Homo sapiens: one gene and its partner. The protein of the gene in region 2 purifies or fractionates together with the protein of the main gene of each other region. This does not show direct contact. Each region holds a gene or a part of one and is shown on either strand. Other genes may lie near its edges.

Region 1 (4,030 bases), about 52 Mb from region 2:
AGTTTTCCATCACATACAGCTCGTTTATCTACAGAAAAAAAAGTTTCCAACCTAAAAACATTATCCTCCACCCTACTTAATATGATTAATATTTTGCATGACTCTTACTCTTGCATTTATGAATAAACCAAAACACATAATTTCAAAACTAAGAAAGCAATTACAATCATCCCAGGAGAAGGCATGAATTATAATAACATAATTGGAAAGGCAAAACAATCCTGTTTGTGCAGGTATTTTGGTTCCATCATCAGAATGAAGTGAAGTTGGACAAAGTTAATCTGCAAACAATGGACACCAGACAGCTAAATGGTCATTATTTCATCTGAAGCACTCTTAACTATCAATTTGCCATAGCAATTTATAAATTCTGATTCTGTTTAGCCCATCAAGTATACTGTTAGTCTATCACCAACTAACAAATGGGCAGAAAAACTTAGTGATATTTCTTATTTAATTCTGAATGAGGCACATGCAATAAGTAAGATAGAGATAAAATGTGTAACAAGATAGACACAAAGTAACCCCAAACTGCTAGTCTACCTATAAGACATACTTCAAGGCTTTTTAAAAAACCATTTTAATCTACCCTACACAGTCTCTGTTTTGCAGTTCCAATGATCTTAAAATAGGTGGGAGACTAAATGTATGCAGATGATCATACCAATATGTAAATAAGAAAGCTTTTCCCCTCCCTTTGTGTAGAGCAAGTATTAATGCTAATCAAAAGAGGTATTCCCTATCTCATAAATGTCTCAGAAAATTCTAATTTTGAAAAAGGGAATTTATTTCCAGTTTACTAAACTAAGAATTTAATACACAGAAATTTGGAGTGACGTTAGTCCAATTCTATTAATAAGTATAATACATCATTTACTTTCAAAGACGTTTTTACTGAATTCTTCATGTGATATTCCAACTTTTAAGTATAAATCCCCTTCTTCCAATAGATAAACCATGTGAAATATTTCTGCCAGACTAATAAGAGTCTATTAATACTAAGTCTTCTTCTCAAGAAGACAAAATATAGAGGGGTATGGGCAGAGTTAGTGGAAATCTCCAAGAACTCAGATTTCCTTGAAACTTCTTGGACAACTAGTCAAATGAAAGGCAAAATTATTATAAGCAAAAAAGATCTTTAGTATGTGTAGTATTCAAGAAATTTTTAGCTTGCAATAAAAACTCCAAATATTAAAAATCAGATTTTTAAAGTCTGAATTTAGAATCCAATTACAGACACACAAAAAGGGAACAATCCTACATATAATTTCAAGGGGCTTAAGGATTTCTATGAAGCTGGTCCACATATGAACCACTAATGAGACAAGAGGAGTTCACTGAAAGGTTTTACGTCAGGAAATAACAGCCAGTTTAGTAGCTTCCAGACCATTTGAACAGCAGGTTGGAGGAAAGTTTGGTAATGCAGGAGGAGGTATGGCGAAAGGGAAACTAGAATATCCAGGTAGTAATGCAAGTATAAGATAATTAGAGGGAGGTTGCTGATGTAAGTTTCCAACAATAGAATAGAAGAATGCTAAGGAAAAAGAAATGAAAGCATTTGATTACTGATGGATGGTGACACATTCACCAAAATTCAGAATTTGAGGAGAGTTCTGTCTCAGACATAATGACTTTATTAAGGTCTCCAGGTGGAGATAGGTAGATGACAGCTGAATTTACTAGTTTGATACTCCAAGAATAAATCTGAGCTGAAAAAAGTCTGGTGACTCACCAACACATACATGGTCCTTGGAGCCATGAAAATGAGTAAATGCCCAAATTAAACCTGTAGAGAGAGCAGTCAAAAGGGCCAACCACAGAATCTTGAATTACTCCAATATCTGTGAGGTAAAATAGCCAGGAAGGGGTGTAAGGAATGGTCAGAGAAGAACAGGAAATAAAGATAGACCACCACCACAAAAGCCAACAAGGGAGACATTCGCAAAAAAGAATAATCAAGCAAGTTACTCTAAGTGACAAAAATTTCACCATACAATTCACTTTTGTGTGGTGCAAAAGTTGTGAACCCCACACACTTAATAGCTATTTTGATTTCCTAAACACCATCAATCCCAGTAAACTTTTACTCGGCCAAGACATCTTTCTTTCCCTATTCCCCAGAGACTATCATAAAACTTCTCCCTCCTAGTTTATCGATATACTAACACCTGTATCACTGAGAAATTAGGTAAGTCAAAAATAAATCCTGAAAATCTATCTTTACCTTTACTGTCTTATCATTATTCCTCCTGGCTCAATATGGGGTACTGCTACTTGTTTACAAAGCTAACCCCTCAACATCTAGTAAGTACTGTCCCCTAACTCCTCCAAGACTGATCAATATACTCTGTCCCTAAGTATCAAAATCAATTAAGATTGATTGTATGTTAAATAAATGTAAAATCTGGTAATATAGTAAGTACTAAATAAATGTTCACTCCCTGCACTTATTTTGAAGTCTCTTTCTCCTACCCTGCCTTCCCACATATTACTGTTCCCTGACTCCTCTAAAATGTGTTGATGATTAGGCAGCTGTTTCCCTCCTCATTCCCTTGGCTTGAAAAATATTTCCTAATTTTCTTTGACTGTTAAAATTCTACTCATTCTTTGAAGGCAAGGTGAAACTTATTCTGTTCATTCTGAACCCTTCAGATGAAATTAATCTCTTCCTCTGTTCAGTTTCAATAGCATCTGATTGTTACCTTAATATGGCATCTATTCCACTGTTTGTTAATTACATACATGTCTCATTTACTGGATCACAGTAAGTTCCTTGATGACCAGCACCTAGACTATCTGACCTATTAAGATTTTAAAAAATGTATACAGATAGATAAATGGACAGGATTAAATAAAATATATATTTTTAAAGACAAATGCTTATTAGTATCATTTTTCAATTATCAAATTTTCAATACTGAATAAAAATAATATGGTCATACTTTTAATAATAAATTAATTATTGTTAATACATATCATTACATGTAACCAGTATCATACTGGAAGAGTAGAAAGCAAGAGTTTTATGTCAAACTGGGAAAATGTGAAATAGCATCTACCAAGGTCACTCTTGCTCTAATAAGAAAAACACTGTAATTAAAAGTCAATAAAATATTCACTACATTTTTCATGAATGACATCAAGTTGCATAGGGCTTATATGAATTTAGAAAACAGAAATATATTCATAGTGAAAAATGTTTCATCAATACGGTGAAGTTAAATATGGACAAATCCAAGGTAGTGTGTAACACTTTAAAGCATATCATGCAAAGATAAATGATGAAAGCACAACTAGTAAAACTGGGGATCAGAGTGAAGTGATATGAATAAAATGCAGTGATGTATTATTACATTAAAAAAATCAATTATGTAGAAATTCCTTTAATTTAGTGAAACAAGTTTTTAGTAACTAGAGTTTTTATAACCTAGTAGTCTGTCTTATTTACAAAAGCTAGTACTACTTGCCTAGCTTAGTTATTTAAGAAAATTATTATGTAAAAAGAAGGTAGAACCCAGAGGACCTGGAGATCTATTTCAGCATTCTTTGAGCAAACTCCTGTGTCTTCAGTTTTTCTTATAGAGACTTTTCCTTTTGAGGAGACTTGGAAATCTACATTAACGATAACTTAATGTAAATAAATTGTTAATAAAGCACCTATAAGTCAAAAGAAAATGCTCATTTAATATAATTAAAACTACATATGACAGATACTCAATTTACCACACGTTAAACCAATCCATTTAATTTACTGCAGCACTGAAAAAAACCATGATGCTACACTTACATTTCTATTACAGATCCCACAGATGCCTGCCACAAAAATAAAGCATTTTCTTCACCAGCAGTCAGCCAGCTTACAGTATTTTCTCTTCCACTGCTGGTTCATTCTTTGTGCTGCAAAAGAAAAAAAGAGTAATTAAGATCAAGAGAATCAGTTAATTATGTATAATCCTTTCAAAAAATTCAGTGGAAAACTTTATCTTAAAAGTGGGAAAAATTAAAGACAAGATGCATGCTTTTACCACTG
Region 2 (4,279 bases):
AAAATTGGTTATGAGGAACTAAAATTGTTCCTTTTCCTTATGCTTTTTTTTTTTGGAGACAGAATCTCGCTCAGTTGCCCTGGCTGGAGTGCAGTGGCGCTATCACTGCAACCTCTGCCTCCCGTTTCCAAGCGATTCTCCTGCCTCAGCCTCCGCAGTAGCTGGGACTACAGGCGCGCGCCAACCACACACGGCTAATTTTTGTATTTTTAGTAGAGTGGGGTTTCGCCATGTTGGCCAGGCTGGTCACCAATTCCTGGCCTCAAGTGATCCGCCTGCCTCGGCCCTCCAAAATGCTGTGTGTGATTAAGGGCGTGCCGCCACCGTGCCCAGAACCCTTATGCTTATGCTCTAAAGAAGTTACCGTTTGCTTGCTTTATAAAAATGCTTAAGACATGGTGAAACTCGAATTTATCATACCTATACATTCAAAGACCCTTAGATTAGAATAAAGTAAAAGTAGTAGTTTGAAACTCACATTAACTCTACATCTGTGGCTTTATTTGTGCTTGTTTTAATCCTCCCTATGTTCATCCAATTAGAATTTTAACTCAATCGGGCCTATAGAAGCTGGAAATCTAGGATAGCACAAAAGTATAATCATCTGCATACTGAAGATAATAAGCACGAGTAAGCCATCTTTTGTTTCCAATTTCAAAACAAAAACAACACACATAGCACTACCTGTAACACAAGCTGCACCCTCTCAGCCTCGACAGGTACCCATTCCGCAAACTGGAATGGAGGTAATACGAAACGAACCCAGAAAAACTCAGAAGCTTTTCTTACTCTTACTAGGAAATCTCCTGTAAAGTTCTCATCACTTTTAGATAAAGGCTGGCTTGTACGGTAAGACTTTTTTTTCACTTTACTATACTCAAGTAAGAAGAATTAAGAAAAATTACCTCTATTATTCACTATTCTTTCACTAGACTAACACTGAGTACCTACTGTGTTCCAGGCACTGTTCGAGGTGCTGTTAACAAAGCAGTACCAAAGCATTCCCATTCCTCAACACCCTCCTATAGAACCTGTTTAGGGATTTTCTTAATTTTAAGTTAAATTGTACTTTCTTGATTCAGTAATCTTTCCGAAACATACTAAAAGAAGTTATTTTTTGAAGTAAAGCTTATGACATATTGCAATGAAAATCATCTTTGCAAAATTATCCAAAGAGTAGTTAATTCTTTTTAACAAGAAGAATGAGTCTCTGAGCAGCAGAGACTCATTTTGCTAAACAAAGTGTAAACACTGAACCCATAGTCAAATTAAGTAATATAAACACTTCTTGGGCTACAATTACAATAACATTTAGCTCTATTTTGGGGGTCCTTATATATTCATAGGCCAAAAAAATCAATATTGTTCCCCATTACCACCTTCCCCAACAAAAACATACAGCTTTTCTTGAGGCTGGCTTAGTCTACTTACAGCAAATGTTTAACTTTCCCTCACGAGTGAGTAAAACTCAAATTGTGTCAATAAGCTTTAGTTACGGCCCCAAAATTGACACTGTAAACCTTACTCTTTTTCCAGATAAATTATTTTACAGAATATTTTTATAAAAACACATTCCGAAAGAATATCAGACAAGGCCAGGCCTAATCTGAAGGCTGGCTGCAAAAGCAAGCCTGAAACTCTGAGAAACAGACCAGAGGGTATAAAACACACCTCAATGAAACTGTCTGTCCCCTCCCTACTTAGATTGGTCCCCAGTTGCACCCAACCTTAGCAATTTGAAACTTTTCATGAACACCAGACAAGATGTGAATGCTGGCTGCTCTCATCCTTAGGCCACCACCCCAAAATTTTTTAAATGTCAAAGACTTCAGCGCGCACTCTCAAAGGACGCCCACCAACTCTGGCTCGTAGCTCAATCCACCCGCGCCCCCTGGGCCGAACCGGCTCGCAGCCGAGCCCCTCGCCTAGGCGGACTCGAACCAGGTGCGCTCGCAGCACACTCCCTCCCCGTCATCGCTCATCCCTCGTACTTCACCGCCCCCGAAACCCACCCAGCGCAGATAACTGAATATCCGGGGTTCTGGGGGCCACGTTTTCCAGTATACCCTCCCTTCTCCCCGTCAAGGGCAGAAACAGACGTACCTTCCAGAAAAGTAATCTCCCCTGCGCTACCGCCGCTCTTGCCGGCCGCCATCTTCCTCCTCCCACGCCGCCTCCTTCTTAATCCATGGCCCACACCGCCGCCGTGCTCGCCGGGATGAGGGGCCGCGCCGGAGGAGGGTAGACGCCGCAGGGTTGCGGGCCTCGGGCTCAGCCGTCAGGCGGGCTGCGCTCCCACGTTCAGACGGGCCTATACAAAGGCAGGCCAGGCGCGCCCGGGCCTGTCCGCGGGCTGGCGGGCAGCGAGGCCCGCGGCCCGAGCTTCTCAGGCCTCTCCGGGGGAACGCGACCGGCGACGACGACGACGGCGCTTCCCGGGCCCGGTTCCTCTCGGCCCACGACTCCCCATCCACCGCCCACCCAGGCTGCCTGAGAAACTTCCCCCAGCCGTGGGTTCCCAAGAAAGGAGAATGAAAGCGAGCACACAAACACGCCTCCCTTCGTCCCAGGCCGTAAAATGGCCGCACCCGCCGCGCCGGAGCGGCGAGGTCTCTGCGACCGTCAGGCGCCCCCAGGCCCCTAGCTCGTTCTGCAGCCGCCGCCGCTACGGCCGTCCGCCCACCCCGCCCAGGCGTGAATGCATCAGCGGAGGCCTTTGCGACTGTCCATGTGGACAGGGGTGGGTCTCCTCTGCCACCGCCTCGCGTCGGTCGCCACAGCAGCTCCAGCCGCCGCCGCTGCCGCTCCTCCCCCACGGGCGCTGGAGCTGCCGCCCGGCTCCCGCCCCCGCCCCGACGCCGCCGCCCCCAGCGCGGCTCCCCCTCAGCAGCCCGGACTCGGCTCGCGGGCAGAGCTGGCTGCGGCGCCGCACCGAGCCCTGACTTGTGGGCGCCCGCCGCCCGGGCTTTCGGCAGGGTAGGCCTTTCACGGCGCGGGCTCGGCCTAGACACGTTACATCCAAAATCCCCACCGCCCAGGGCCCCATGGCAGACCTGGCGTGTGCGATGGGTTTGCTCCTCTGGCACCACAGATGCCTAAGAAATGTGAAAATGTCATTTCTTGAGGAGACCTTAGAATTTAAACTACAGCCAACCGAAGAGAAAAGGTAGTGAGGTACTGGAATCATATGTTTAGTAAATGATTCGTGGTCTACATTTATTTTTAAAGAAGTTTCCAAAATAATTTAGCAGGGAAGATCCTACCAGTCAGCTTTAAATGGCAGTGTTTTTTTGTTTTTTAAAAAGTCCCTTGTCATTTACGTGCCTGAGACTTGAAAAAACCATACCCTACCTTACAAGTGAGGCCTTTTTTTTTTTTAACTTCTTTTCCTTTAAAAATTTTCTCTTATTATAAAAATAATACATTCTCATTCAAGGAAATATGGAAAGCACAGAAAATGATTATAATGTTTCACGACTGAAACTCAACTCCTGTAGGTTTGTAGTCCTCTGATAGCATTTTTCTTGTCTTTCAGTATCGTTCTTTAAAAAACAAAAATGAGCAAAAATCTATGCTAAATGTCAATGAAAAGTCAACAGCAATTAAAATGATGCAGAAAACCGACATGATTAAGTGCAGTCTTTGGGGAATGGACTGTTCTAATTCAGTTGTGCTATTAACGAAGGCCTAAGCGGAAAGGCTTATTGTTTAAAACGTCCTTTAAAATCTTTTTCCTAATGCGAACCAATAATCTTTCCTGATTGGCAAGAGTAGTGTAATGAATGTAATTTATTTTTGTTGCCTGAGGTTATTGCATGATCCTGTTGTGGTGTTCTATGACATCGTCTGTGCCAATGACAGTATAATACTGAGAAGTGTAGGTAATAGGCAAATGTGGGTAACTGGCCATTTGTACAGACTTCAACATGTAGTTTTAAAAAAATCTTTAAGGCCGGGCACGGTGGCTCACGCCTGTAATCCCAGCACTTTGGGAGGCCGAGGCGGGTGGATCACCTGAGGTCGGGAGGAGTTCAAGATCAGCCTGACCAACATGGAGAAACCCCGTCTGTACTAAAAATACAAAATTAGCTGGGCGTCGTGGCACGTGCCTGTAATCTCAGCTACTCAGGAGGCTGAGGCAGGAGAATCGCTTGAATCCGGGAGGCGGAGGTTGCGATGAACGGAGATCGTGCCATTGCACCCCAGCCTGGGCAACAAGAGCGAAACTCCGTCTCAAAAAAAAAAAAAAAAAAACTTTCAGCAGCTTGATTCCATTTGG

What was found.
Region 1: the proteins of SENP6 (region 2) and RNF146 purify together in Homo sapiens (affinity purification with western blotting; one study listed by BioGRID). This does not show direct contact.

What each region holds. Positions count from the first base shown.
Region 1 is NC_000006.12:127,280,098-127,284,127, reverse strand, and holds part of RNF146 (E3 ubiquitin-protein ligase RNF146), read right to left. Parts: intron 3,898-4,030; 5' UTR 3,790-3,897; coding exon 3,788-3,789; intron 3,613-3,787; exon of another isoform or gene 1-3,612. UniProt on the Homo sapiens protein: E3 ubiquitin-protein ligase that specifically binds poly-ADP-ribosylated (PARsylated) proteins and mediates their ubiquitination and subsequent degradation. May regulate many important biological processes, such as cell survival and DNA damage response.
Region 2 is NC_000006.12:75,600,401-75,604,679, reverse strand, and holds the start of SENP6 (sentrin-specific protease 6), read right to left. Parts: upstream 2,801-4,279; 5' UTR 2,156-2,800; coding exon 2,104-2,155; intron 1-2,103.